7 linked regions of the Homo sapiens genome follow. The protein of the gene in region 1 interacts with the protein of each later gene in a biochemical or structural test. Each region holds a gene or a part of one and is shown on either strand. Other genes may lie near its edges.

Region 1 (4,430 bases):
TGCTTAAGGGGAAGAAGTTCCCAGATGTGCACACAGCTGCTCACAGCTGGAATGCTGGTGCATGGACTAAGTTGTAAATCATAACTGGCAACTGAAAACAGTTTGCTACATAGGGAGGGAAGAGGAGGCGAATGGAAGAAAAACGTTCAAGCTGCTGAAAAGGAGCCAGGGCGAAGAAAATGCTAAAATCATCATACAGGCAGTAATCTTAAATCAGGCATAATGCAAACTAACAAATTTCTTCTCCAGTGGTCTTAAGAAATAAACACAATCCCCTCCTATACCTTTAAAACATACAATCACCTATCTTTCCAGCTGTCTACCTGACAGCAGCCAGTACTGCTAAGAATGCTATCAGGGGTCCCAGATGAACATTATGATGTAAGGGACATGTGGGGGTTGTTTTCAAGGTCGGCAGCTTCAGAACCTGGCCTAGGAACAAAACTCTGTGCACTGGCCAGTGGCTCCAAGCCAGATTATTCAGACTGCTCCTTTTTAAAAATGACAGAGGCCAGGTGTGGTGGCTCATGCCTGTAATCACAGCACTTTGAGAGGCCAAGATGGGCGGATAACGAGGTCAGGAGATTGAGACCATTCTGGCTAACACGGTGAAACCCCATCTCTACTAAAAATACAAAAAATTAGCCAGGCATGGTGGCATGTGCCTGTAGTCCCAGCTACTAGGGAGGGTGAAGCAGGAGAATCGCTTGAACCCAGGAGGCAGAGGTTGCAGTGAGATTGTGCCACTGCACTCCAGCCTGGGCAACAGAGTGAGACTATGTCTCAAAAAAAAAAGAAAAAAAAAAAATTCTAATTTTACTGGTCTGGGGTGCATCTTAGGCACTGGAGATTTTTTTTTTTTTTTAACGTACCCCCCAGGTGATTATAATGTGTAGCATTGAGAACTAATGCTCTAGAAAGGTATAAATCTAATTAGAATGAAGATACATAGGGATGATTGTGGCAGCTACTCTGGAAGGCTGGAAGATTCCGAAGTAGACTTACGCTTTTATGAAATGTAAAGTGTATGATACATCCTTCACCACAAAAGGCTTCATAACCTTGAAATAAATAAAAGGAATGGAAGCTGGGGGCGGGAGGAGGTGGTAGAGTGTGTGTATTTATGCGCCCACACACAGATGAAAAGAGAGAGAGGCAATAACAGTGCTTATGCTACTTACTTGAGAGCTAAAGATCAGAAGGATTAAAGCAACTAAATCAAACCAAAATTTCATAAATACACTTCCCAAACTGAAGAAGATTCAAAAGACAAAAATTAATTTTGTACGCCAAGTATGTAGAAATAATAGATCAAGAGAATATAAATGCCACTGAACTGTACATTTTAAAATTGTTAATTGAGCCAGGCATGGTGGCTCACACCTGTAATCCCAACACTTTGGGAGGCCAAGGCAGGTGGATCACCTGAGTTAGGGAGTTCAAGACCACCCTGACCAACATGGAGAAACACCCTCTCTACTAAAAATACAAAATTAGCTGGGCATGGTGGTGCATGTCTGTAATCCCAACTACTCTGGAAGGCTGAGGCAGAAGAATCACTTGAACCCAGGAGATGGAGGGTGCAGTGAGCCAAGATCATGCCATTGAACTCCAGCCTGGGCAACAAGAGTGAAACTCCGTCTCAAAAAAATAAATAAAAAATAAAAATAAAAATACAAAAATTATCTGGCTATGGTGGCACATGCCTGTAATCCCAACTACTCAGAAGGCTGAAACAGGAGAATCACTTGAACCCAGGAGGTGAGGGTGCAGTAAGCCGAGATCACGCCCATGCACTCCAGCCTGAGTGACAGAACAAGACTCTGTCTCAAAATAAATAAATAAATAAAATATTTAATTGTATATTATATGATTTTCACTGCAAAAAAAAGATTATCAAGGATTGAAAACAAATGCTATCACTGGAACAAAAGAAAGGGCCGGGGCCGGGCGCGGTGGCTCACGCCTGTAATCCCAGCACTTTGGGAGGCCGAGGCGGGTGGATCATGAGGTCAGGAGATCGAGACCATCCTGGCTAACAAGGTGAAACCCCGTCTCTACTAAAAATACAAAAAATTAGCCGGGCGCGGTGGCGGGCGCCTGTAGTCCCAGCTACTCGGGAGGCTGAGGCAGGAGAATGGCGTGAACCCGGGAGGCAGAGCTTGCAGTGAGCCGAGATTGCGCCACTGCAGTCCGCAGTCCGGCCTGTGCGACAGAGCGAGACTCCGTCTCAAAAAAAAAAAAAAAAAAAAAAAAAAAAAAAAAGAAAGGGCCGGGCGCGGTGGCTCACGCCTGTAATCCCAACACTTTGGGAGGCCAAGGTGGATGGATCACAAGGTAAGGGGTTTGAGACCAGCCCGGCCAACATGGTGAAACCCCGTCTCTACTAAAGATACAAAAAATTAGCTGGGCATGGTGGCGTGTGCCTGTAATCCCAGCTACTTGGGAGGCTGAGGCAGGAGAACTGCTTGAACACAGGAGGTGGAAGTTCCAGTGAGCCAAGATCGCACTATTGCACTCAAGCCTGGGTGACAGAGCGATATTCTGTCTCCAAAAAAAAAGAAAAAAGGAAGTGAAATGGTAAACATTTCAAAGCCCCGGCTGGGCATGGTGGCTCACGTCTATAATCTCAACACTTTGGGAGGCCAAGGCAGGCGGATCACGAGGTCAGGAGTTCAAGACCAGCCTGACCAACATGGCGAAACCCCGTCTCTATTAAAAATACAAAAATTATCAAGACCATCCTGGCTAACATGGTAAAACCCCGTCTCTACTAAAAATACAAAAAAATTAGCTGGGCGTGGTGGCAGGCGCCTGTAGTCCCAGCTACTCGGGAGGCTGAGGGAGGAGAATGGCGTGAACCCGGGAGGCAGAGCTTGCAGTGAGCCAAGATAGTGCCACTGCACTCCAGCCTGGGTGACAGCAAGACTCTGTCTCAAAAAAAAAAAAAAAAAAAAAAAAATCAGCCAGGTGTGGTGGCATGTGCCTATAATCCCAGCTACTACTGAGGCATGAGAATCGCTTAAAGCCGGGAGTTGGAGATTGCAGTGAGCTGAGATCCAGCCACTGCACTCCAGCCTGGGCAACAGAGCAAGACTCTGTCTCAAAACAAAACAAAACATTTCAAAGCCCCTTTCTATTCTTAAAAAATTCACCAATGATCCTCCTTCTCTAAGATAACTAAGTCTTCTACTTATGGAGAAGGCAGAGGAGTGGTTTAACATTTTACAAAGATTTAATTTTGCCCCCTTAATACAATCCAGTGGCCACAAATTACATTTCTCACTTAGCCAGGAGAGGGAGCTGTAATCAACATACCTCCCTGGAAGCTCTTTTGTTCAACAATTTACCTTATAGGTCCATCCTTACAATAGAAATAACCAAAATATGATACTTTTATTTATTATTATTATTTTGGTGGCAAAAGAATAGTTTTTGGGGAAAAGGGAAAGGAAGCTTACCTCTCTCTTTTTTTTAGATTTGATGTCATCGGCACTGTTTGAGAAATTGGATTTCCTCTTGTTACTTTCTGACTTCTCCCTGGGTTTATTATTTTCACCCTCCTTCATCTTCTTATACTTTTTCATAAATTCAGAAATTAGCTCAGGGCAATCCAAGTTTTTCTCAGGTTCCCAAGTATTGTGCTCCCTGGGTAAGAAAAATGGGAAAATTAAAAAAAAAAGGGGGGGGTAAAGAATGAGGAAAAAAATCCAATGCCTTATTTCAAAGAGGACATTCGGACAAAAAGGACAGAGAAACCCTATGCTTTAAAGAAGATAACAAATTTGATCCTAGATTTCTACCCAGGAAAAATGAAAAAAAAAAAAAAGCCCACACAAAGACTTATTTACAATTGTTTACAGCAGCATTTTAATAGCCAAAAACAGAAAACAAATTCAAATGTTCATCAATGGATGGTGACATGGAAAAACAAAATGTGGTATATCCATACAAAGGAATATTATCCAACAACAATAAGCAAAATATTAAAACATGCTACAACTTGGAAGAACCCCAAAAACATTATACTAAGTGAAAGAAATAAGACACAAGATACTACATACTAATTCCATTTACATGAAATGTCTGGGAAAGACAAATTTATAGAGACAGAAAGCAGATCAGCCGGGCACGGTGGCTCACACCTGTAATCCCAGCACTCTGGGAGGCCGAGGCAGGCAGATCACTTGAGGTCAGGAGTTTGAGACCAGCCTGGCCAACACAGTGAAACCGTGTCTCTACTAAAATTACAAAAATTAGCTTGGTGTGGTGGTACACATCTGTAGTCCCAGCTACTCGGGAGGCTGAGGCAGGAGAATTGCTTGAGCCCGGGAAGGGGAGGTTGCAGTGAGCTGAGATTGTGCCACTCCTGCCTGGGCGAAAAAGCCAGACTCTGTCTCAAAAAAAAAAAAAAAAAAAAAAGCAGATCA
Region 2 (4,430 bases), on another chromosome or scaffold:
CACAGGCTGGGCCACCAAACAGGCAGCAGGCACGGGCCAGCTCCTCCACCTCCACCAGCTCCCCTGGATCCCCCTGCTCCCCCAGTTCCCCCAGCTCCCCCAGCTTCCCAAGATCCCCCTGCTCCCCCAGTTCCCCCAGCTCCCCTGGCTCCACCAGTACCTCCAGCTCCCCCTGACACCCCAGCTCCCCAAGCACCTCCAGCTCCCACAGCTCTCCCTGCTCCCCTGCTTTCCCAGCTCCCCACGAGGCCAGACACACAAAAAGAAAAACAGAATCTCTTTCTCTTCTTAAAAACCAAAGTTTTTCCCAATCTATGTACACTGAATCATGAATTAAGAAGCTGAATTAATTTCTATATATTCTACTTAGAAAAAAGCTATCAGGCACAGCTGAAAACTTAAAATAGTGCTTTTAGGCTTAAAGTAAAACTTCAGGCTCTGTGAATTCCCAATTCCCCTCAGAAGCCAGAGGAGCTTCTACAGAGGCCAACCTCACAGTAGAAAAGGGCGACAAAAAGACTCACACCCACCTTGGCCACACTGTCCCACACAAAGGACACACACACACATCTTTCTGGCGGCTAAAAGGGTCAAACTAGCACTCTTCTGAAATGCTTACCACATGGGAGGGACCACGCCAAGGCCATGATGAGATCACCCAAGTAATTGGGGTGGCGAACAAAGCCCCACCATCCAGAAACTAGAAGATTTTTTCCCGTTGAAGTATGAATGGTTTTTAAATCTATATAAAAATAAAAGTACATTTTTAATGATGTCGAGACAAAAAGAAAAATAAAACCTTCATGTAATATATATAATATAAACATAAATCAATACTTACGTGCAAGCTTTGGATCACTGGGATTTTTCCGGAATGCATTTTTCTGAGAATTTGCACCTCGGAAGATTACATAACCACAAACTGCAATTTTAAAATATTTTCCTATGTTAATAACTTAGTTATACTCTAATGCTTAATAGCATCTGTAATTTCTCTTAAAAATGATTTCTATGCTCTGAGGAAATTTCCAAAGCAGACTCCTAGGCTCAAGAGATCCTCCTGCTTCAGCCTCCCAAAGTGCTGGGATTACAGGCATGAGCCACCGCACCTGGCCTGATTCTTAAGAACAACTCAAAACCTCTAAATCCCACTATGTAAAAAGATGGTAACCCGTCCGAAATCTATCACACTACTTTAATCATCCACCTAGGAAACGCTCTGAAGGCAAAACAAATATAGTTACATCCATGAAAGAGATAAAATCTAAGATAGCCTACATTACAATAAAATCAATACTAGAGTTCAGTGTAATCAAAATTACAAGCTATATCATCTGTTAGTTATACCTACTGGCCATGGCACAAACATTTTATTATCAAACACTAGCTTAGAATCAGCACCAAAACATCCTGCACTTTAAATACATGCTGAATCCCACTTTAAGTCTATAAGTTCCTAATTTTATCCAAATTTCAGAATGTCAAAAATCAATCTATCACTGACATTTAACTATTATATAGTCGATCCTCAATAAACTAGTAAGAGAATAACTTTACTTCCTGCTTTGGTTTGAATGTGTTCTCCAAAGTTCACGTGTTGGAAACGTAATCCTCAATGCAACAGTGTGGAGAGGTAGCACCTTTAAGAGATGATTAGGTCATGAGGGTTCTGCCCTCATGGACAGATTAATGTGGCTATCACAGGAGTGGGCTCAGTATCTCGAGTGGGTTTGTTATAAAAGTATGTTCAGCCCCTCTTGCTCTTCCTCACTCTCTCTTGCCCTCCCTCACTCTCTCTTGTCCTTCCACCTTCCACCCTGGGATGCTGCAGCAGAAGGGGTCTTGCCAGATTCCAGCACCATGCTCTTTGACTTCCTGGCCTCCAGAACCATGAGCCAAATAAATTTCATGACAAATTACCTAGTCTCAGCTATTCTGTTCGAGCAGCACAAAACAAACTAAGACATTCCCCATTTTTAGCTGAACTATAAAATACACTGTCTTGAATAATAAAATGGATGACATGGACATCCAAACCACTGGTGAAACTAAATCTTAATTTTAACCAATGGTTTGAACTTCTTCTACCACAGATACTAACTTGTGTAGCAAAACTATCTGTATTTGCAGTTCACTGCTAATTTTCCCTGCCCAACCTCTAGTATAAGTGTTTAGTGAACAGTGTAAGAACAATGAAAATTCATCCTGAAGTAAAATCCATGACTGACCCTGGTGGACCGCAGCTGCAGCCAAACTGGACTTCTCAGTCTTTCCCAACCTCATCTCACACTTCCCCACCACACACCCTTGCTGAGCTGTTCCCAGTGCCTGACTTTTCGATCTCCCCATCCCATTTTCCCCTCTAAAACTCCAATCGAACACCATATCCTCCGATAAGTTCACACTAACGCTCCCCAGAGAGAAGTTCTCTCTATCTTTAACACCCGTCATCTAAGCCCCTCTTAGTGCTCACTCACACACCTCACAGCAAGGCAGGAATGTCTTATTTCTCCTGTTAGAATGTGAGCTCTATGAAGGCAAGACAAATCTTCTTACTTTATAAGATGCCTACCAGAAAAAGCAGGCACTCAAGAGAAAAGACGTATGGTTACCAAAACGAATTAAAACAACTTAAATTTATTAAATTTAAAAGCAAGATGGTTTAAAATAATCTGTTTCAAGTACTACTGAGAACCCAAGTACGAACCATCCATTCTCTTTGCAAAATGCAGATTTTTTATTACTCATGATAAATGGCTTCAAACTGAGCTAATGCTGGCCATTCAAAATGGCATGTTTCAAGTATGTAGACAGCAGGGCATAAAAGCCTCAGTACATAATATTTAATAAATTAAACTGAGACTAAAATTAATACTCACGTTTCAGAACAATAATTAGAGAAGCCATTGGCCAAGACACTTCATTTGGATGACTGACTAAATAAAAGGCTTGGAAGCTGTAAATAAAGGGAACCCACACCAAGTCTCCAAAAGCCAGCATGAATCCAAATCCATCGTGGATGATGTCCATGGTCGTCAACAACGCTTCCTATAAGGATACAGACGGGGAAAGGGAGAAGGAGCTTCTGTGTTTAAAGTATTCAAATAAAGTACTAGTTTACAGGCAAATGTAAAAAGTGCTATGGGCGGGTCCACAATCAACATTTTTTTGTTAAAGGGGAGAGAGATCTGGTTCCCCTGGCCTGCTAGGTCTTTCTGCTGTCACATTCTCCCGTCACGCCAGCCTCTCGCTCATGCTCTGGAGATAACAGATCTCTAAAGCATCTCCCATGCCCCCATGCCCAGGCCCTCCCCTCTGCTGACAACCCCTCCTCCAACCTCCACATAGGCCCTACACCCTCTGCTGCCCTCCTGACCTGCTGCTCAGACCTGGGCACTTCTCAGATATCACCACCCACCAGTAGGCTGCAGTAATTGGGTTACTGTACTTGTCTAGTCACTCTTCACTACACTAAAAGCCTCTAAAAGACAGAGGCTGTGTGTTTTCACCTTTGCCACCCCAGTACCTAGCACAGTGCCCGCCATGGAGAGAAGTGTTCAAAATATGCTTGCTGAAGGAATAAGATCACCAACTCTTTTTGTTTCAATTCCACATGGACCAATCTAATTTCTGTTCATAATCTGGCATTTCATGTGCATTTTCCACAGAAGAAATTAAGCTGCCTGGCAACATGGTGAACTGACAGCTTCGCTTCTCATGTAAATTAATAAAAGTGCATTACTCCCTGGTGATTTGGTTAGCATGAGCCAGATCGCCTCTGGCCCAGGATACGGGCAGGCCAGACTCTAGAATACGGAACCACCACCAAGGTCAACACTCTGAAGGTCTGGCCTAAGGGAATCTCTAAACTACCCAGAACCTCAGTACAGACCACTGATGTAGAAATATTAGCCAGTATAAGCTCTGTTGGAGAATCAAAGTTCTAGGTTAAAGAAAAAGAGTGGTACCTCTAAATAGCATTTTTTTCCAGAAAAGAAAGCAAATAGGCCATGGAACAGAAAAACAGATGTCACATGAAACAGAAAAACCAATCTCACAAAATCTAGCTCCTTAGGCTTATACTCTTTAGTTAACCAGAGTACTTTATTCTCTTTAAAAAAAAAAATTGACATGTAATAATCGTACATATTTATGGGGTACACAGTGATGTTGCAATACATGTAATATATAGTAATCCAATCAAGGTAATTAGCATATCCATCATCTCAAACACATTCTTTCTTTGTGTTAGGAATATTCAATATCCTTCTAGCTATTTGAAACTATGTATCACTGTTAACTATAGTCATCCTACAGTGGTATAGAATACTAGAACTTAGAACTTACTCCTCCTATCGAGTGGTAATTTTGTATCCTTTAACAAACCTCTCCCTATCCTTCCCTTCCCCCTACCCTTCCCACCTTCCCAT
Region 3 (3,338 bases), on another chromosome or scaffold:
GATTAAATTCAAAATAAAGATTCAGAAATTTCAGTTATTCTAGCACCATATGGTTAATATTAACAAGTAATACGGTTGTTTGGAGTACGCCTTTATAAATATCTAGTGTAGACCTGGAGAAATTATAAACTTATATTTTATGTGTAGTTGGACATTGTAGAAATGGTTTTAAAAGGATACTGGATAATTTCATTCATTTCTTCTGAGGTTGCAGAATTTGCATCCATTTTTTCAGCAGCTGTCACAACTGTTGCAAAAGCCTTTTGAATAGACAAGACAGAAGAAAATAAAAATGTCTACAGTTGCCAAACATCTTTTACTATACTTCTTTTAATGGCTGTTGATAGCTGGCACATATTCTTCATTATATCAAATTTAAGATTGTCAAAACTACACTGATGATCACTTTAAACCACTTATATATTAAAAGATAAAGTAATGGTTCCTGAATAATCTTGTTTCAGAGAACTAAGAGTATGCAGAGAAAAGAAACGAAGCTAGTCAAAGGTAAAAGAACAAGAAAGCCCTGTTTCCTCTACTAATCTTACTCCAGGAAAATATCTATTTTTCTTGGAAGCAGCCAATTATGGATATTTTTTAATGGTGACAAGACATCTGTAAGGCCTTTAATAGAGTTAAGATCTTTGTAATACTATTCTGAAGACAGAAAGAATAGTTGTTTATTTTAAAGAATAACAACAGTTGTTTATTGCCTTGCCAAGTATTCCTTATACTTCCTGATTGCTAAATCTGTTGTGTAGTTACTTCAATTTTTTTTCTTTTAAGCAAGAAGAGAAATGCTAGTTAATAATATACTTTATTTTGTGAAATAACAGAACTGACCTAAATTGTTTAGTTTTTGCTTAATGCTAACTATTGGGTTAGATCACATACTTATTTTGACCTAGCATGAACACAGAATTGGCTTGGTTAAGGAATTCAGGATCAGAGGGCAGGGGATTGGGAGTGGGGACTGTTGAACTACCACTTCCTAAGGAACTTTTAAAGTTTGAAATGATTTATGCTTTCCAAATAAAAGACAAGGCATTAAACACAAGATAAATTCCAAAGCACTAAAAGTATAAAACTATTCTGAGAAAGTCATCATGGATGGTTAGAAAAATATCTAGCTTGTTCTTTTCCCTACAACCTACCTCTGACCAGTCCACGAGGTTGATGAGCCTGCTACACTCTAGGTGCAGTTTGTATGCTATGCAGATGTCTGGGGCGATATTCGGAATGCAGCCTTCTTCGCTTTTCAGTGCTTCATTCTAACAATTAACAGTAAACTAAGATGACTAACTTTTATAAATTATTAGGAATAAAATCAGACATTAATGAAGCCCCCAACCTAAACTGAGTAAACCAGTAAATGGAATCTTGGTTTCCCTTATTTAGTGAGTGAGTCTATTCAATAGTTAGCTAGTTCTTGTTTAGGTTTATGTCTTGGTCATAACCCCTCTAGTTCTTAGTCACTAGAAGAATATTCCCAGGATTAGAAGATAAGCATATTTTTCATTTCAATCCATAAATTACTAATTTCTCAGACCTGAATGCACTTAATGTAAAAAGTTTATGGAAATCTTTAGGAATACTTAATAAAATGGTACTTCCAACACTTATAATTAGCTGAATTCTAACAATTACTATACTGTATTAGTAAATACTAATACCACTTACCAGGGGTATAAATTTCTTTTAAAGAAAAGACTACGTTGTCAACACTGCAGACCTTAAGCCCTATAGAAACCATCAGTGTTTCTTCAACCTATTTGAAATCCATGGCTTTTACTGAGAAACACAAAGTCTTACATACACACCCTGCTCTGATATTATAATATCAGGGGTATATTATAATATATCCCACCCAAAGACAACTGAAATCATACCAGTTCTCTTCTGTGACCCACCAGCCAAGAAGAAGACAGATTTTGTAAGTTTTAATTTATGGTTTATATATTAAAATTAACTGATTTTTTGGTTAAGTATGAAATTATTCAGTGGTTTTCACCATCACTGAAAACCATTGACTTATATCGTCCTACTCAATATTCTTGTAATACTCTGCATGTTTGTGTGCCGTTTTGCAATGAGAAGCCAGTACACTGGAATGCTCTTCATAGGTCTTACGGAGTTGTTTCTTAAGTATTTATTGTGGCAAGATTTCTGGGTATTTAACTTACCACTCTTTCATGTATATACAGCTTATTGAATGTTTAAAGTGATCATTTTGCCCGGTCATAAGAAAGCTAGTTTCTAAAATTGTGAGCTGTCTTGAACTATTGTTTAAAGAGCTTCCAGGAGTTGATAACTGTGTCTGGACTTTAGCAAGGGCAGCTGAAGTGTGCTGCCCCAGGAGTTTTAGTGGCAGACTGCTGGTTATCCTCTACACTCAGCTCTGCAGATGCTCTCAGAATAGACCTTTCTTTGTTTTAAAATCCAAGATGAAGTCCCAAAGTATTTCTCTTTCCCACTAGAAACAACCATTTCGGTCTTTCAGTAATTTATTAGGCCATATTGTTTAATCCCTGTCTGCTGTTATGTTTACAGGAAACATTTCTTTTATTTTCACAAGAGTGGTAACATTATACTCTCAAGTCTTTGTGCCTATGATCTGACTTTAGCATGTGAAGGGCAAAGATTACACATGGTCAAAAACTGGCAGCAACAGTTGACTACTAATTGCTATCTTTATGGGGTTAGAAATTTTTTTCTACAGTCTAAAGAATTTTTAAAAATATATGAGACGTGCAACCCTGAATTGCCGACTCTCTGCTCATTAAAACATAACTGCAAATTTAGTATATTTTTATGACAATGACGCCCAGAGTCTGAGCTAAACTATCAGAAAACTAAATGTTCATCTTACCTTGAGATAATAGTAAGGATTGTTGAGTGCAGTATGGAGGGCAATTCGCGGAGCAGCATTTAAATGCTCACGAAGGGCATGGGCAGCACTGAAGTACACCACCTCATGGAGAGGCTGTGTCTCAGGAGGCAGAAGGTATTCTCTGAAACAGCCAGTCAGGCATCCATGTTTAGATAAGCACAGGTTTATTTTCTTTATATATAATATATATATTTTTTCCTTTAAGCTCTGTTGGACTTCAATTTTCACTATAACATTTTTGTCAATCCTCTCTCTGTAGAGGACTGAACCATTTACTAAAAGCAAAATTAACAACCAAAAACAAACGAATGAAACAAACCCAAATATCAGCTCTAATACAGTTTCACTCAGAACTGCATCTCTTCCATATAATAGTTTTTAAAACTACCTCTAGACTCTTTATAAGAAGCTGTATATTTCAGTTCTGAGTTAAACCTTTAGGAACAAA
Region 4 (4,430 bases), on another chromosome or scaffold:
AACGGCTGGGCTGGTTGGGGTACTGGCTCCTCACGTACTCCTCCAGTGCGCACTGCGACTTCTCCTGCAGGCTCTCGATGTGGGCCGCATCCGACAGGCCACAGGCGTCTGCCCAAGCAGCCACAGGAGGGAGAGACAGGGAAAGGGAGCACACGGTTAGGCTGACAAATAGCAAAGGCAAAATAAGCCATCAATTTTTTTTAAGGAGAAAATGGAAAATAAAAAAGAAGTAAAAGAGAAAAGAAAAATTCACCCTCCTATACCTCTCCATCCCCTTCTTCATTCCCTCCTCCCCCGCCCCCAATACAATACAAATAAAAATAAATCAAACCCCCACCAAGCCTAGGGGAGCTGGAGAGAGAGGCACACACATGCAGAGGCAGAAACCTCTCTAGTCCCTTTGTTTTTCCTCTTTCACCTTTGGATTAAATAATGTACAATGCTGGAACCATGTTTGCTGCGCTTAACAACCTGTCCTCGGCCTGCAAGGGAGCATCTTTCTGGCCGTGCTCATTAACTTTTGCCCCATTTGCCTCTGATCTGGGGGTGTTCAGTACCCCTTAGGAAATATGCAGCCTGAAGGCAGTTCTTAAAGGATTCCTGGAGTCCCCTCTCAAACCCAAACCACCCCAACCAGAAACCTCCAGGAGAACCTAGATTGTGTAGTGAACAAACACATGGGAGGGGGTAAGGAATCATGGGCTGGCAGTGCCTGGAATCAGATGAAGCCCACGCTTTAGCAATATAGGATTTCAGATCCGTTATCTATGCAAGAAAGGACTCTGCAGCAAATCCTTGGTGAGGGTGTACACTTCTATCTATACCTTAGATCAAGTAATTGAAAATTGGTCACATCTCTGTAAGCTGTATAATAATCAGGAAGAATATGACTCAGTTACTCCAGGCTGCAGAAAGGCGACATCTTCAGCAATCAGACACAAAGCTAGGCTACAGGCAGCAGCTGCTGCTGCTTCAGAACTGGGGGGGTAGGGGGGGATGTGGGTGGTGGGGAGTTGAGGGGGGACTTGGGGGGAGATAAGCTTTTGGTGGCAGGACCAAGGGAGAAAAAGGCACCTCCGCACAATGACAGCACCTCAAAATCTGTGTGCTTAGTTCATGTCAACCAAGGCCCTTCTTGGTCCTCTAAAAGTATTTCAGGACAGCAGATTATATTATATCAACTAACTAGAGGCAAGCATAGGGAGGGAAAGATGGAATAAGAGGAATGGAGTAAAGGCATCCTCTCCTAGTTCAAATACCCACTTGTTTCTTATATTAATAATAAATATTAAAAAAAAACCAGTAAGATCACAGAGGAGCCCTTAGCCAGTCAGGAGGTTGACTAGAGATCAAAGGCAGAATTTGCTAATATATAGATCTGGGAAAAAATTGATGCATGGCAATGCCCCCAAAATGACATTGTATAATTTTGAATGGGCAAGTGTGACCCTAAGAAGACACAACAAATGATTCAAAGTGAAACCTGTGTCTGCTGAGTTTCTGAGCTTTATGACCTTATATTTCAAGAACTGGGATTTACAAAGCATTCTAACACCTTCATCTACAAGGCTATGGCCTCGAGCAAAAATACAAATAAAACTAGTGATAATTCAAGAACTTCTGAGGCAAGTCCCCTTTGACCTCAGATACAGACTAGGTTCCTCTCAGATGTCTAATTACTCCAGCCAGCCAGTTGGGTATATCCACACTGGTCTGATATGGGAAGCCAAATGAGACTTTATGGCTATTAGGGCCAGGGCAGCAAGAGCTCTGTGGGGCTTTGCTGCTTAGAGAGGGGACCGTGAGTTTGGCCCTGCTTGCTAACCTGGCCCTGATGAATGACCCTCACTCAGACCCAGACCCATAATTACATAGAGCTTGCTTTACATGCATTATCTGCCTGCATGCTTATGGATCATTCTCAGCCCTAGACAATGCAATGTGAAAAGGGCCCCTTGGTATCCCGGCAGATTTTTTTTTTTTAAGATCCATCTGGCATCCCCTCAGCTCAGTAAAATATCTATCTGACATTTATGATTAGGGTCCCTGGAGTACAAGGTCACTTCCCAACTCCCAAACAGGCCGCTCCAAGAGAGACAAGAAGCCCAGGAAAGGCCTGCCTGGGTCCTGTGCTGGTTGCTTCCATTTCTTCCCTCCTTTGGAGGTGAATGCCTGTAGCTGGGCCTGCCTGCCAGGTACCAGCCAGCTAGCTCTGTGGCTTCCCTCCGGCAGGAGCCCTGGTTCTGGCCTGGCTTCCCAGTCTGGAAATTCATTCACCCCTTTGCAACAGGATTCCCTCAACTGTGGACAGAAGGTATGAGCTCCCAGATCAACTAGGGGGTTGTGGTGACAAAGCTAGGTGACCAGGGGGTGTAATACAGTATATATTTATGCTCCATGAGTTATACCCCAGATAAGAAAATGAGGCAGAATGTGCAAAATCCATGTCACACTTTTTATACGGTAGTGTCAATGTGGGAACTCTCAATATTTCTTCTACAGTGTATGGAAAAGAAATTATGTAAATAAATAACCATTACTGCTCAGGCCCTCCTGGCCTAGCCTTTGTAGTGCAGAGAATGTATTTCATGTTGTGCATTCAGAAGAGTTTAGTGTTCAGGAAATATAGATGTAATCAGCTGCCATAACTAGAAATCAAAGTTATTATTGTGCTGAAAATGGATTTATTGTATTTATGTTAACTAGATGGCTCCTTTCAGAGAAAGTCTCATTTATTTGAAGGAATATTTAGGTGTATGAACTAATGAATTTTTTAAAAAGTAAGTTCAGGTCATGACCTAGTCCTTGGATGCAGTCCAGAATATTAAGGATTAAACATACCATCCGGAGGCCAAATGTGAAAACCACCACGGGGGACCCCCGTGCCAGCTTCAAATACTTAGCCAAAGCAAACCACATTGGACAATATGTCTAAAACTGTCTTTTCCATCATTCAAAGTTTGCTTAAAAGTTGGATGACTTTGAGAAGGCTTCCCATGAATTCCCTTCTGGCTAGCAATCAAAACAAGTTTAGTCAAAAGTGGAAATGTGTTGCATGGGAGGGGGGAGGTGAATTACTACTGACAGCTCTATTTCCATTTTCAGATATTCTGCTTGCAATTTTCCAACAAAATAATGTTATTGTTCATTTCTAGGCACTCTTTGCACCTTGAAGACTTGATTCAAGAAACTTCCTTGGAAAACTTTTTAAATGAACACTTTTCACAGGAATGTTTTAGTATGGAAAGTTAAAAGGAAAGCATGAATAATTCCACAGTGTTTCCCTGCAGCCTGCACAGTCCTCACCTCTCTCTGGGAAAGGGCATGAGATTAGCAAAGTCAAGGGGGTTCAAAGAACCTTAGGGGGTGTAAGGAAAAGAGAGGAGAGACCTTTCCTGAGAAAACGTCTGTCCAGTTCCAAGTCACATTTCTGCTTCAAGACACCTCGCTGGATGAGATTTTCAAACCCCAGCTTCCCTGACACTGGCTTGCTTCCTGATGAATTTGGCTAAAGAGCCTGGTAGTAGAGAGCCAGCCAGGCCCCAGGCCTGCCAGAGCTGAGGCAGCCTGGTTGCTGCTTCCCAGGCTCTTTGTCACTTTTGAAAAACACGTTTCCATCAAGAAGACTTATTAAGATAAAATGCATTCAAATACGGAGGAGGCTATTCCATAAATCTTCCATTTGTTTTAAGGTTTGCACTTTATCCTCTTGGAAAGAATAACTCCCTCTCTCACTAGCAGACCTGCATTTGCACTGAAAGTAAAAGGGGGGCAGTCCAAGTCCATTGCTCTGGCCACCCTGCATACAAATGAGATGCTCTTGTCTAAATAAATTATCTGCTGTTCAGATCGATATTAATACTACATTTGCTACATTACAATATTGTGCAAATTTAGGAGTCATTTTAATACAATGTAAATACAATTCTTCACACATGAAAGCCAAGAAATATTGATAGATTATACCATTGCTTACTGTTCAACAAGGCCTTATGAAAGGGATTTTGCTATCCCTGTTCAAGAATGGTTTTAATTTGGCCATTGGAAAGCCTGGTTCTAGGATAGATTTATTAGGATGGTTTATTTGTTCTCCGAATGGAGGAATTAAAAACAATACTGCCAATAATGGTGGTAAAACTGCAGCTAACCCTACTCACAGTGGGCAGGGCCCAAGACCCAGTCTAAGCAGCACTACTTGCCACCAGCCTCCTCTCTGGCTTTGTCTCTATTTCTCCCCATTACCTGCTGTCCTGGGTGTTTATATGTTTCCCTCTTACAGGTTACAATAATAAAAAGCGGGGATTGTTCTCGGAGGCTCAGACCAGAGCCCTTCAAAGGAAACGTTAATGCACTTTTCTGGAAGTTAATTTGAACCATCTATCATAAGAGAAATTGTTAACATGCATGTTACCACTGCCTACACATAATTT
Region 5 (4,430 bases), on another chromosome or scaffold:
AAGGTTATTTAAAAAACACAAAAACACCAGGCGAGGTGGCTCACGCCTGTAATCCCAGCACTTTGGGAGGACAAGGCAGACGGATCATGAGGTCAGGAGTTCGAGACCAGCCTGACCAACATGGTGAAACCCCGTCTCTACTAAAAATACAAAAATTAGCCAGGCATGGTGGCGTACACCTGTAATCCCAGCTACTCAGGAGGCTAAGGCAGGAGAATCACTTGAACCCAGGAGGGAGGAGGTTGCAGTGAGCTGAGATTGCGCCACTGCACTCCAGCCTGGGTGACAGAGCAGGACTCCATCTCGAAAAAAAAACAAAACAACAAAAAACAAACAAAAAAAGAAAAGCCCTGCAGAGGCCCCCACCTGCCCACCCCACCTCACCTGGCCGTCGTGCCTGCGCTTCTTCATGAATTGGGTGATGCACATGCTGCCCGCTGACTTCCTCTTCAGCGAGATGGGAGTGCCCTGGCTGGGCCCCGTGGAGGGGACGCTGCCACTGTCCTCTTTGGGGGCCGAGGGCACCGATGTCACATAGCTCCACTGGCACGGCACGGGCAGGTGCTCCTGCTGGAAGCTCTGTAGCACCTGCGGGTGCACGTACCAGCACATCCTGAAGTCAGGCCGCTTCTCATACACTGAGTTCTCGGAAATGAGCCGCTTGAGCCGGGACTTAGAGGGGATGGCGGCATCCTCGCTGGGGGTGGGGGTGTGCAGGTAGGTGGTGGAGGGGCTCCGCGGGCTGCCGGTGTGGTTGCTGAGCAGTCCCCGGCGGCAGTGCTCCTGGAACTCCCGGATGATGACCTTGCTCCCGTTCACATTGCCGTGCAGGAGCGGCAGCAGCTGGGCCAGGACTGGCAGGAGGGAACATGGGTGGGCATGAGGCTTGGGGAGCCACCCATCACCACAGGCCAAAAAACAAAACACATACACAAGCTCATTGCCACCGAGGCTTGGGGCATGGCCAGCTTCGGGGATAGGTGGCCTCATGAGGGCGGGTGTAAGACAGGGTAGCACCTACGCACCTGCCCAGAAGTGAGCCTTGGCCGGGCACGTGTGTTGCCAGGGCTGACTTCAAATGCCTGCTGTTCCTACCCAAATGACTGCCCTGCTCTCCTTGTGTGCCATGGTCCCTCCCCAGTTTTTTGAGTTTTTTTTTTTTTTTAGACAGGGTCTTGCTCTGTCACCCAGGCTGGAGTGCAGTGGCAGGATCATGGCTCACTGTGGTCTGAAACTCCTAGGCTCAAGCAATCCTCCCACCTCAGCCTCTTGAGTAGCTGGGATCACAGGTGCGTGATACCACACCCAGGTAATTTTGCATTTTCTGCAGAGATGGGGTTTTGCCATGTTGCCCAGGCTGGTGTCGAAGCACTAGGCTCAAGCGATCCTCCCACCTTGGCCTCCCAAAGTGCTGGCATCACAGGCATGAGGCACTGTGCCCGGCCCCTCCCTGGCTTTTGAGAAAGCACAGCCCCCACTCCAGCACTCTCTGTGCCTGTGTCCTGGTTGATAAAACAAGCCAATTAAGGGACCTGCCTCGTCCTGCTGCTAGGGACATCATTGAACGTACGGACATGTACAGGAAAAGGGCTGGCCTCTGTTATTTGTGGAAAGAACATTTGCATCACGGACCCACTAGCCTGTGACTCTTGCCCTCAGCCCTGGAATTAGCTGGGCCCAGGAACAGGTGGGTGGCCTGGCCCCGCCCACACTCACTCTGCTCGTCTCTCCTCTCCCGCTTGGAGGCCTTGGGCGTCTGCTCCTCCTGGGCCGGCAGGGTCTCCAGGAAGCAGGCTGCGAACTGCTGCAGTACCTTCAGGTCATCGCCTGCGCAGTCTCTGTCAGCCGCCCACACGCAGCCGATCTTCACAGGTTGCAGGACGCGAAAGCGCTTCCCCTTAGCCAGGAACTCGTCCCACTCCTTGGCCTTCAGTTTCTGGCGGACCTTATGGTTCTCAGGGTCGGCACACTCCTTGTGGTTTAGAAAGCAGAAGTTTATTTGGGGTTCTTGCTCCCCTATGCCCGGGCACTCTTTTGAGGAACCAGTCCCCAGCCAGCTGGGGAGCAAGAGGAAAGGACAGGGGCACAAAACTTCCCACAGTGTCAGGGCCAGGGCAGAGCACACCATGCGCTGGCTGCCCCTCTTCCAGATGGAATAATTCACACCTGGTCTCCTTTGGGAGCGTCACAGATATTTCTGAACTCACCCATGAGGCCTCTTTTAACACCCCTCTGAATTTTCTGGTGAATGTGTGATCGTGGAGCCGTTTAACAGGGTTGGGTGTCTACCCACATGGCCCAGGCATCTGGCAGACACATGCAGGGCCTGAGACCACTCTCTGACTGACAGTTCAGGCCTCGGTGGTCAGATATGCACAAGGAATGCCTAGGCCTCCAGTCCAACCATGAGACAGTCCCACCAAATCCCCACTTCCCAAACGACAGGCCTTCAAAACAAAACAGGACCAAAAACAACTTGCTTGAAAGCAAGTTCCTGCCGGGCTCGGTGGCTCATGCCTGTAATCCCAGCACTCTGGGAGGCCGAGGCGGGTGGATCACTGGAGGTCAGGAGTTCAAGACCAGCCTGGCCAACATAATGAACTCCCGTCTCTACTAAAAATACAAAAATTAGCCAGGTGTGGTGGCACACGCCTGTAGTCCCAGCTACTTGGGAGGCCGAGGCAGGAGAATTGCTTGAACCCGGGAGGCAGAGGTTGCAGTGAGCCAACACCGGGCCATTGCACTCCAGCCTGGGTAACAGAATGAGAATCCGTCTCAAGAAAAAAAAAAAAAAAGACAGTTCCACAACCTTATGGAATCTGGAAAGGGGTGGCAGGCAGGTTCGCCTGCAGAGACGTGGGCAATCTTCTGGAGAGATAGGGAAGTTCTGTTTTATTTCGGGCGGTGGTTGCCCACATTCACTTGATTGTTACGTCATCAAACTCAACACTTACAATGCACATGTCTTGCTGCATGCTGACTGTATGTCAGCTCGGGTGGTTTCCAGCCTTCTAACCCACAGACCATGGCCACGCTCCCTCACCAGGGTGTCTGCTCCTATGGCTCCCCTCGCTTGCAAGCTCCTCCTACGTCTGCCACCCTCCCAGGTAATACCAAGTTCAGGCCCAGCTGTTCCCACGAGTGAGCTTGCGTGCTTGGAATGCAGTCCAAATCTCGTATGGTTGGGCTGGGACCCCCGTCACCCTCCCAGGTCAGGCCACTGAGCACCAGTCCAGAAATGAACTTTTGCTGAGCCGGTGACCTCCCCCTTCACTCCCTCACCTCTGTCACACCTTCGTCCTCAGACAGGTACCCATGGGGCACAAAGAAACCATCGTCCTCATCTTCATCCTCTCCCATGTCGTCATCATCATCCTCAAAAGGAGAAAAAAAAAAGAGTTCATCAGATAGAAAAGCAGAGTGTGTGCCTTATTAAAAACAAAGTAGGCCAGGCGCAGTGGCTCACACCTCTAATCCCAGCACTTTGGGAGGCTGAGGTGGGCGGATCATCTGAAGTCAGGAGTTTGAGACCAGCCTGGCCAACATGGTAAAACTCTGTCTCTACTAAAAATACAAATCTTGGCTGGGCATGGTGGCACGCACCTATAATCCCAGCTACTAGGGAGGCTGGGGCAGGACTATCACTTGAGCCTGGGAGGCAGAGGTTGCAGTGAGCCGAAATCGCGCCACTGCACTCCAGCCTGAGTGATAGAGTGAGACTCCATCTTAAAGAAACAAAAAAATGTAAAGCTGTGAACATCTGCTTTGCATGGCCTCCCGACAGACACGGTGAGCATCGGCAGAAAGCCCACTAGGTCACAGCAGCTGGGCAGTCAGGAGGAAATGGTGTGCAGCAGGCCCGCAGGAGGCAAGAGGGGGCTGTGGGGCCACGGTGCAGATGCGGACGGGATCCCATCCCCAGCAGCCACGTGGGCGAGTGTCACCAGATGAGATTTTTCGAGAGAAGCTGGAAGTCTGGATGTTGAGGTGCGTTCAGGTTTCAGACCACACAGCAGGTCAAACACCAGCTGTCAGTGAGTGAACACAGCTGGGCTGCATCCTTAGCCCCTCACTGTGGGACAGAGACTCAAACACAAGCCGTCTGTGAGTGAAGACAGCTGGGGCACATCCTTACCCCCTCACTGTGGGACAGGGACTCCCCAGGCTCCTCTTCTTCCCACTCCTCATCACTGTCCACCTCATAGTCCAGGAGCTTCTGAGAAAAGAAACACATGGGACTCACAACTGTCTTTGGGGCTGGAGGAAAGGGGCACAGTGAGGAGGTACGGGGACGGAGGCACTCTGGGGCTAGCTCACCGTGTCCTGGGCCCAGGGGTCTCGCGCGCGGATGAGTGCCGTCTTCTTATTCCAGGTACCCCAGTAGGCAGGCCGGTGGTTCTCACAGAACTGCAGGAGCTTCATCCTGCCAA
Region 6 (4,090 bases), on another chromosome or scaffold:
GACATTTTTAAAATAAAGTTTTTGCTCATTCTTTATTATCACGGTCTGTCATACACAGCAGCAATTATTTTTATAGCAAACAGATTGTGACATTATAATATGGGTAGCTTTCCATATAGGATAAGCCATGAACATATTTCTCTGCTTGACTCATAACTTTGGCATTAAAAAAAGGTGAAATGTAATCTCTCCAAAGGTAGCACATCAAATACATATTACTGAAAAAAGATAATGAATTAAATTCATTTGATAGCATGTCATTTGTTTTCCTTACTTTTTGGATGCTACTAGTTTTTAGATTTGAGGTAAAAATAAAAGTATGCTAGTTTTATTATCATTTTTATTTCAAAAAAATGTTCTGGCAAATACATATATATATTTTTTGAGATGGAGTCTCACTCCATCGCCAGGCTGGAGCACAGTGGTGCCATCTTGGCTCACTGCAACCTCCGCCTCCTGGGTTCAAGCGATTCTCCTGCCTCAGCCTCCCGAGTAGTTGGGACTACAGGCGCCCGCCACCACGCCCAGCTAATTTTTGTACTTTTAGTAGAGATGGGGTTTCACCTTGTTGGTCAGGCTGGTCTCGATCTCTTGACCTCATGATCTGCCCACTTCGGCCTCCCAAAGTGCTGGGATTACAGGCGTGAGCCACCGCGCCCAGCCCTGGCAAAGATATTTTAAGCAACACTAAATTACATGTGCTTGATCATTTACCTTTAGCTATGTCTTCATCCTCTTTGTTTTTGTTCGATGACGTACCATTCTTGGCAGCAGCTGAGACAGTCTGTAAATGTATGAGTAAAATGAACACAACTATCTTTTCAAACAAAACACAAGCTCCATAATTACTTGCAGATGGTAAATTTTAAAAAATACTGATATAACTGAGTTTCATTTAAAAGTGAAGTTCTTTTTTGAGACAGGGTCTCATTCTGTCAGCCAGGTTGCAGTGCATGGCACAGTCATAGCTCACTGTAACCTCCAACTCCTGGGCTCAAGTGATCCTCTTGCCTCAGCCTCCTGGGAAGCCGGAACTAGAGGTGTATGCATCCACAACCGGCTAATTTTTATTTTTTGTAGAGACAGGGTCTCACTATGTTTCCTGGGCTGATCTGCAACTCTTAGCCTCAAGTGATTCTCCTGTCTCAGCCTACCAAAGTGCTAAGATTACAGGCATGAGCCACCATCACTGGTCTAAAAGTGAAGTTCTTTATAATAATTTTAAATAATTGTTTTCAAATACTAAAATAAAACATCAGATTTTTCAAGAAAACATTATAAACTCACACAGGGATCAAACTGGCTTAGATTTTGCATAAATGTAACACAGAACTTGGCATACAGAAAGTACTTAAATATTAATAGAATTTAAAAAAGACTCTTTTCTGATTGTATTCCCGATCTCAATTGTCCAAGGTCTCTTAGTGAGAGGAGCTCTGCTATAGGAGTACAGCTACACGAGGAGTGCCAGCAAGAAGTCATGATCATCACTGAAGAGAGAGGAATGGGGACAGAGACAAGAGGTGCAGTTCTAGGAATATGTGTGAAGTCCTTTTACTAGTTATTGTGGCTGGGTGGCAGTGGTCTGCCAGACATAGCAGAGAAGTAAGGAAGGTCATGCTTGAATTTAATAAACAGCATGTAAGACAGGTATCCAGGACTGATCCATCAACCGGTTCTTTACATAGATTTTTCAGAAAAATATGCAGAAAGGACAGAACAGGAAAATGTTTCCTTTTTATTACTTATAAGACTCTTATCTCAAAACGTTACCTTGTACCCTTAGGTCTGGTCAGCTATAAAGAATCTTTTTTCGGCCAGCGTGGTGGCTCATGCCTGTAATCCCAGCACTTTGAGAGGTCGAGGCAGGTGGATCACCTGAGGTCAGAAGTTTGAGACCAGCCTGGTCAACATGGTGAAACCCCGTCTCTACTAAAAATACAAAAAATTAGCCGGGCATGGTGGTAGGCACCTGCAATCCCAGCTACTCTAAAGGCGGAGGCAGGAGAATTGCTTAAACCCGGGAGACAGAGATTGCAGTGAGCTGAGGTTGTGCCACTGCACTCCAGCCTGGGCAACAAGAGCAAAACTCCATCTCAAAAAAAAAAAAAAAAAAATCTTTTTTTCTCTTTAATCTATGATTTAAAATAAAAGAAAATATAGTACTTCTCATCGTCTCTTTCCCTAGCCCATATCTTAATATTAATGGGAAGGAATAAGGTACTGAGAGCAAAACCCAAGGAATAGTATTTTTCTCCCCTAGACCTAAAAAAACCAGCCCACTCCATGAGTCAACATCCCTGCCTCCACACCCCAGTTCTACTAAAGCTATCCCTTCTCCCAGCAAATAAATTTCTAGTCTTACATTTCCATCCATCTTGTATGTGAAGCATTCACTCTAGGCATATTCACTCTTGAACAAACAAGTCTTGAGCCTCTCAATTCCATGAATTTGTTCATTTCACTTACCTCCTGATATGACTTCTTCACTTCTCTCTAACAAAATATTAATACATTCAAGTCTCAAAATTCTACCTCTTTACCTTCTTCACCATTCCAATCTGTAGTCACCTCTTTCTCTCTTTGGTATTAAGATAGACAGTATGCAGTCTATTCCCCTCATCCTGTATTTGTCACTTACAATCTAAATTAGTTATTTTTCACATGTATAAAGCTATCATTCAAATTTGCTACAAATTTCTTGAATATAAGGGGTATGTCATATACCTATGCCTTTTGCATGACTGTAGACTTAGAGGAACATTAAATACACTATGTCTGATTAACTTCACAAGGTTCTGATATGTGGAAGAAATACACATAAAAACTAGAATGTCTACTAAACGTAAGGAAGGCACTATGCTAGAGAGTCATTTGGGAAGTAAAGGTGGAAAATGATAATCTAGACATACCTTGCCTAGTCTTTACATAACATACATACCTTCAAAATATTATAGGGTCAACCATGGGTCTGAATAAATCTCTCACCTGAGAACCTGCTGGAGGAAAAGTAATTCCTTCTTCTTTCATAGATTTAATAGTTGCAGATATCAGACTAAACTGAGGGTCCTTCTGAAATTCTTCTGACCACTCCACCATTAAAGATTTCAGTTTTTCACATACTTTAGGATGTGCCTTTTAAGGAAAAGGAAAGGAAAATAAACAAAAATCTACGGTTAAAATAAGTACTTAAATTATTTAACAAGGAGAATTACCATCAAAATTCTCTTTAATTATATGAACATCAACAAAAGTCCTGAAATTTCTAGCCTAGTTGAGTAATTGATAGATGCCTATTTACATGTTGTGATATAGTTGTTTCATACAAAATGACTGTTTTTAACACCAATTCCTAAGTCTTACTATAATGACAACAGATCTTTTATATTCAGAGATTATTTCCTCCATGTTTCGGAGAATGGAGCCAGAGAAACCTGGATGTAAATCATGGCTATTCCAGTTACCAGCTGCATGACCTTGGACAAGTTACTTCTAAGTCTCAGTTTTTGCATTTATAAAATAAGAATGATAAGGGAATCTAACTTCCAAGAATCTAATGCTCCAAGGGTAGTTAAGAGCATTCAACAAGACAGTATATGTAAAATGCTTAAAGTAATGACTACTTACTAGCCCTCAAAAAGGATTTGCTATTATTTACAGTATATATACTTTGGGGAGAATAGTTTTTGGTGCTACACATTAAAAAATCAAATTTCAGAACAGTTTATTTCATTTCAATGATCTAAAAATGACTTCATTTATAATACTTTAGTAATGCCACATATAGTTATAATGACACACAATCTACATTTTTTTAATGACTTAAAGTTCTTCTGTTTTTAAAATTTACCTTATTTTTAATCACAGCACGTACTTCTGTTGCAAAATCACGGGAACATACTTCTAAATGAAATATCTTTCCACAGTTTGCCACACAAGCCCCAAGAAGCTATTAATTGAAATAAAAATATATGAATATTGAAATATTAACTTACTGTAATTAAAAACACATTTAAAATTTGCGTCAAATAATAACATGCCTTGTACTCACAGTTAGTGCTTGCAGAGCAACATGTGGAACCTTATGATT
Region 7 (5,151 bases), on another chromosome or scaffold:
TGGCCAGTCCATGAACAGAGGGTCTCTCTTGTCCCCTCTGAGCTCTGTCTCCTCCAAGGATACCTGCAGGGAGTCCTGCCCTCTTACCAAGCACGAGTGGACACGATCTTGGCCCCGTTGGTCTCCATGGAGTAGCGCGTGCAGGGCAGGATGGTAAAGCCACTTTCCGGCAGGAAGGCACGGAGGTAGCGATAGACCTGGTGAGGGTGAGGGTGGGGGTGAGGAGGCGGGGCAGGGGCATCTTTGGCCCTCTCTCTCCAGGACTCTAGGCCTGCCATGCCACTGACTCACTGTGTGGTCTTGGGGGCCTCATGTTCCCTCTCGGGGCCTCAGTTTCCTCATCCGTCAAATGAAGAGGTTGGACTACATCTCAGAGGGCCCCCCCAACTCTCCTCTCCTAGGATTCTCTGAGCCTTGCCTCAGATGGTCCCAAGGGCTAGGAAGTCAGGGGGCCCCAGGGGCTGCGCTGAGGGACTCTAGAGCGTCTGCCAGGCGGGACCAGGCCCGGTGAGCGGGGAGGACACGCGGTGAGGGCGGGGGAGGGGAGGGCGCCCTCACGTGGGTCTTGAGGGCAGCCTCCTGCCGCGGGCCCCGGCTCTGGAAGTAGCGGGCCGTCCAGCCTCCCAGCGTCAGGGCCCGGTACGCAGCCTCCAGGTCCCGCTGCCTCAGGAAAGTTTCCAGCGCTGAGCGCAGGTGCTGCTGTCGCCGCAGGGGGGGCACAGGGCTGGGGGAGAGGGCATGCCTGGGTCCCAGGGCCTTCCCGGGCCCCGGCCCCAACCCCCACTTGGAGCTGAGGGGAGGACCAGGCTAAGGAGAGGGCCGAGGGGCGGCAGCGGTGCAAGGGGAGGGGTCCTGACCCCTCGGGCCCACCCTCGCCCCCAGGCCACCTCACCTGACGTTCATCTTATGGGTGCGGAAACCGAGGTAGGGGTCCAGGACGAGGCTGGTGGCCAGGTCGTCGTTCTCGCACAGTTCTCGTGCTGTCACTCTGTCGGGCCCCATGGTGCCCTGCGGACCATGCTGCCTCTGGCAGAGAGCAGGAGCAGGTGAGGGCAAGGCAGGCGCGGGGAGCCTGGCTTGGTGCTGACTCCACTCCCACGCTACTCAGAAGCCATGGGGGACGCTGGTGAGCCCCACGATCTCATCTGCAAAATGGGGAGAAAAGCAGTGCTGACTTCACCAGGCCGCTGGCGAAGATGGAATGCAACAAGTACTTCTGAGAGTAGGGAAAGCCCAGAGCCATGTCAGCCATCGCCTTAGCTCTTGCTCTTGCTCCGCAGCGCAGACACAGATCCCCCCTAAACACACAACCCCCACATGCACACCCATGCACACTCAGACTGACACACGCAGATGCCCCTGCCCATATGTACAGAGACCCCCTACACACACACATCTCTTTGGGCCCAGAGAAGGCTGACTGATTGGCAGCCGGGATCACCCTAAAGGCTTAGCACCGTGGGGAGCCGCTTCACCTCTAGCCCTCAAGGAGGAAAAGTCAAAGCTTCCCGCCAGCCCGAGGTCCCGCCCTCCACCCCCACCTCGACCCAGCCTCGGTCTCCGCCCCCTGCCTCCCCGGCAGCCTTCGGGAGTGGTCAGGAGGCTCCGGGTGAAGCCCCAGGCAGCCTGGAGGCGGGTGACGGGAGGGAGGGCAGGGGAGGGATCCCAGCACCTGCTCCCTCTCCAAGGATTCCAGGGGAGGGGGGCTCAGAGGACAAAAGCGGGGGTGGGGAGGGGAGCAAAGGAAGACTATGGGGAGGCAGCACAGGTCAATATTTACAAAAACATTTTTTTAAAGCGGAGCCAGGAGAGAACGGAGAGATGAAGAAAACCACCCAAACCCCTAACCCGGACGGAGGGCCAGCCTCGTCCCCGCACCACGGCGCTCGAGGCTCATCCGCGCCCAGGAGAGGAGGAGATGGGGCAGGGCAAGGAGCGGGAGCTGCAGAGACGGCTGTGGAGGGGTCGGGGACAGACTGCGAGGCTGCGGGAGAGAAAGAGGGGGCGCTGCAGGAGGACGCCAGGGACAGCGGGGAAGCTGGAGAGGGGGCTGGGGGCAAGGAGAGAAACGCACAGCGGTGGGCACGGCAGGGGGCTGTGGGAGGGAGAAGGCTGCAGCCGGGCCTGGGGGCGCTCAGAGGGGTGTGAGGAAGGGATGGGGGTGCCAGGGAGGACAGAGAGCGGGGAATGGCCTAGGGACTCAGGGAGGAGCCAGACGGGAGACCTGGGTCGGGGGGCGGTCCAGGGATGGCGGAGAAGATCCTGGGTGTCCAGTGAGTGAAGGGCCTGAGAGGGCGGACAGGGGCCCAGGGATCCAAACGGGCTTGGTGGGGTCCTGGGGGATCCAGGAAAGGGAGACCCTAGGGAAGGGCCTGGGGACCCAGGGAGGCGCCTGGGTAGGCGGTGAGAGCCCAGGGCAAGGGACCTGGAGGGTCAGAGGCCGACCTCAGGGTCCAGGGAGTGCCAGGAGAGGGACAGAGGGGTCAGGGAGAGGTTCTAGGGCACAGAAAGACCTAGAGGGTCCAGAAGGAGGCCTGGAGGGTGAGAGGAGGTCGGGGATTGGCCCTGGGAGTGCAGGGAGGTCCCGGGGGTGAGAGAAGGGTCAGGGAGAGGCCCTGAGGGTGCAGGGAGAGACCTGGGGGTGCAGGGAGAGGCCTGGAGGGTGAGGTCAGGGAAAGGCCCTGGGGGGTGCAGGGAGAGGCCTGGAGAGTGACAAGAGGTCAGGGAGAGGCCCTGAGGATGCAGGGAGGGCCGTGGACGTAAGAAGGGGGTCAGGGCCCGGGTGAGGAAGCACAGGAAGGAGGCTGCAGTGCCGCGGAGCCCGAGGCCCGGCGAGGGGCCGGGAGACGTGGGCGCCTGGACACGAGGAGGGGCCGGGCGGGGTGGGGGGCAGTCGGGGCAGGGGGCGACTGGGGAGCCAAGGCGGCGCGGGGCTGGGGCCGTGAAGGGGCTCAGAGATCGGGCCCCGCGCCGCCCCTCACCCGCTTCTCCTCCTCCTCCTCAGGCGCCCGCGCCGCCGCCGCCAACACCTCCCACAGCCTCCTTCGGCTCTCGTCAAACACTGTCGCCGCACCTCCCATCTGCTCTCCGGGCCAGCCCCGCCAAGGCCACTGAGGCTTTCTATTGGCCACAGCCACCGCCACTCCTCCGTTGCTACGAAGCTCACGGCGCTCCCATTGGCCAAGCCCCACTCTTTCCCTCCGCGCCCGGCTCTCGTCAATACACAGATAAAACCCCGCCACGCCCCCGCCGCCGTCAAACGCCGCGAACTGTTGTCAGTGGTTCACATCGCTGTCCTTTAGTCGCTGCCATGGAGACTTGTCCCGCCTTCGCTCACACTGGGGCTCGAAATCGACGCACTCATTGGCCGAAAGCGCAGTCTCTCCGGGCGAAACTCGGTTTGGGTCGGGTTATTCAGGTCCAAGTGGAAAGAGGGCGGGCTCTGCCAGCTCCAGTAGTCGTATATGATTGCCTGGCCTTGGGACAGCTCCTCTTTCCATTGGGTAAGGCCTCCGTCCATCACCATAGAGTCGCGGCCTCCCTCTTCTATTTCTCCGAGGAAAGCTTCGGCCACAGGAGGGAGAAAGCCAGACCCGGCGGGAGGGAGGCGGTGAATGCGCGCGCACCGCCATCCCTCTCCCCTCCCGCCCCGCGAGGCCTGCGGTTACCAAGGCGACGAAACTTTATTGACAGCTCTGCCTGGCTACAAAGGGCTCCTCAGTCTCTCTCCCTCCCTCCCCGTTTACACCGTTGCGTTTTGGGAGTATCCACACGCACTCTGTGGGACCTTCCCGCGATATGAACGGGGTCGGATGGAGGGAGGGGAGGCTGAGGGAGGAGTGGGGACTTTTGAGACAAGCCCTGACTCCTGGGGCGCTCCCCTGGGGCACCCCCTAATTGGGATCACCCCCCCTACCTCAATCCTAGAGGCAAACGTAACTAACAATTCATCATAATTACGCCGAGAATAATAAGCTCCACACTCAGAACAGGCGGTCTTTGTTTGCTTGTTTGTTTGTTTCGCCACAGCCATTCTTCCCTTAACGACACTGATACCATCTGGGCAGTGCGTGCTCAGGCGATGTCGTCATCCTGCCAGCATCCTAGAGCAACATCACTCACACCTACGTGGCAGGGCTGCTGGCACCTGGGCTGTAAGGTGGCCGGCGGCTCCTGGGCCACACAGCTGTGCAGCATGTTACTGTCCGGTAACACAATGTAGGCGCTTGTGTGTCTACACATATAGGATCACTGTCAGACATGCGCTCCACTGTACAGCTATAGATCGTGGGCACTTAAAACAATGCATGCCACAGAGTAGGTGCTGTTTTGGTGTGCTGTTTTTGGTGTTTTGGTGTGTGTGTGTGTGTGTGTGTGTGTGTGTGTGAGAGAGAGAGAGAGAGAGAGAGAGAGAGAGAGAGAGAGAGAGAGAGAGAGACAGAGACAGAGTATCGCTCTCTCGCCCAGGCTAGAGTGCAGTGGAGTGATCTCGGCTCACTGCAGCCTCTGCTTCCCAGGTTCAAACGATTCTCCTGCCTCAGCCTCCCAAGTAGCTGGGATTACAGGCATGCACTACCACCCCTGGCTAATTTTTTTTTAGACAGAGTTCCCTCTTGTTGCCCAGGCTGGAGTGGAATGGTGCGATGTCGGCTCACTGCAACCTCCGCCGCCCAGGTTCAAGCGATTTTCCTGCTTCAGCCTCCCAAATAGTTGGGATTACAGGCATGCACTACCATGCCCGGCTAATTTTTTTTTTTTTTTTTTTTTTTAGTAGATACGGGGTTTCACCATGTTGGTCAGGCTGGTCTCGAACTCCTGACCTCAGGTGATCCACCCACCTCAGCCTCCCAAAGTGCTGGGATTACAGGCATGAGCCACCATGCCTGGCCTGTATTGTGTTTTGAGACAGGGTCTTCCTCTGTTGCCCAGGCTGGAGTGCAGTGGTGCAAGGATGGCTCACTGCAGCCTCGACCTCCTGGGTTCAAGCGATCCTACAGCCTCAGCCTCCTGAGTAGCTGGGACCACAGACGCATGCCACCATGCTCGGCTAATCCTTTAATTTTTGTAGAGACAGGGTCTCTCTAGGGGCTCATTCAAGTGATGCTCCCTTCTTTTTTTTTTTTTTTGAGAGAGGGTCTTGCTCTGTCGCCC

The links.
Region 2: the proteins of CBX5 (region 1) and LBR form a complex in vitro, tested with the Homo sapiens proteins (2 studies listed by BioGRID, with this or other methods).
Region 3: the proteins of CBX5 (region 1) and ORC3 form a complex in vitro, tested with the Homo sapiens proteins (one study listed by IntAct).
Region 4: the proteins of CBX5 (region 1) and NR2F1 form a complex in vitro, tested with the Homo sapiens proteins (one study listed by BioGRID).
Region 5: the proteins of CBX5 (region 1) and CHAF1A form a complex in vitro, tested with the Homo sapiens proteins (2 studies listed by BioGRID).
Region 6: the proteins of CBX5 (region 1) and STAM2 interact in a test that uses a peptide from one of them, tested with the Homo sapiens proteins (one study listed by BioGRID).
Region 7: the proteins of CBX5 (region 1) and KMT5C form a complex in vitro, tested with the Homo sapiens proteins (one study listed by BioGRID).

What each region holds. Positions count from the first base shown.
Region 1 is NC_000012.12:54,248,580-54,253,009, forward strand, and holds part of CBX5 (chromobox protein homolog 5), read right to left. Parts: intron 3,649-4,430; coding exon 3,462-3,648; intron 1-3,461. UniProt on the Homo sapiens protein: Component of heterochromatin that recognizes and binds histone H3 tails methylated at 'Lys-9' (H3K9me), leading to epigenetic repression. In contrast, it is excluded from chromatin when 'Tyr-41' of histone H3 is phosphorylated (H3Y41ph).
Region 2 is NC_000001.11:225,403,785-225,408,214, forward strand, and holds part of LBR (delta(14)-sterol reductase LBR), read right to left. Parts: intron 3,049-4,430; coding exon 2,880-3,048; intron 923-2,879; coding exon 842-922; intron 743-841; coding exon 620-742; intron 1-619. UniProt on the Homo sapiens protein: Catalyzes the reduction of the C14-unsaturated bond of lanosterol, as part of the metabolic pathway leading to cholesterol biosynthesis.
Region 3 is NC_000006.12:87,662,676-87,666,013, reverse strand, and holds part of ORC3 (origin recognition complex subunit 3), read right to left. Parts: intron 3,012-3,338; coding exon 2,870-3,011; intron 1,272-2,869; coding exon 1,155-1,271; intron 261-1,154; coding exon 181-260; intron 1-180. UniProt on the Homo sapiens protein: Component of the origin recognition complex (ORC) that binds origins of replication. DNA-binding is ATP-dependent. The specific DNA sequences that define origins of replication have not been identified yet.
Region 4 is NC_000005.10:93,589,240-93,593,669, reverse strand, and holds part of NR2F1 (COUP transcription factor 1), read right to left. Parts: intron 109-4,430; coding exon 1-108. UniProt on the Homo sapiens protein: Coup (chicken ovalbumin upstream promoter) transcription factor binds to the ovalbumin promoter and, in conjunction with another protein (S300-II) stimulates initiation of transcription. Binds to both direct repeats and palindromes of the 5'-AGGTCA-3' motif.
Region 5 is NC_000019.10:4,429,494-4,433,923, reverse strand, and holds part of CHAF1A (chromatin assembly factor 1 subunit A), read right to left. Parts: coding exon 4,318-4,430; intron 4,217-4,317; coding exon 4,136-4,216; intron 3,376-4,135; coding exon 3,283-3,375; intron 1,973-3,282; coding exon 1,717-1,972; intron 855-1,716; coding exon 385-854; intron 1-384. UniProt on the Homo sapiens protein: Acts as a component of the histone chaperone complex chromatin assembly factor 1 (CAF-1), which assembles histone octamers onto DNA during replication and repair.
Region 6 is NC_000002.12:152,144,174-152,148,263, forward strand, and holds part of STAM2 (signal transducing adapter molecule 2), read right to left. Parts: coding exon 4,052-4,090; intron 3,950-4,051; coding exon 3,851-3,949; intron 3,136-3,850; coding exon 2,989-3,135; intron 785-2,988; coding exon 715-784; intron 1-714.
Region 7 is NC_000019.10:55,337,788-55,342,938, reverse strand, and holds the start of KMT5C (histone-lysine N-methyltransferase KMT5C), read right to left. Parts: upstream 3,064-5,151; 5' UTR 2,982-3,063; exon of another isoform or gene 2,225-2,981; intron 1,146-2,224; 5' UTR 1,003-1,145; coding exon 893-1,002; intron 725-892; coding exon 559-724; intron 547-558; exon of another isoform or gene 292-546; intron 198-291; coding exon 88-197; intron 85-87; exon of another isoform or gene 1-84. UniProt on the Homo sapiens protein: Histone methyltransferase that specifically methylates monomethylated 'Lys-20' (H4K20me1) and dimethylated 'Lys-20' (H4K20me2) of histone H4 to produce respectively dimethylated 'Lys-20' (H4K20me2) and trimethylated 'Lys-20' (H4K20me3) and thus regulates transcription and maintenance of genome integrity.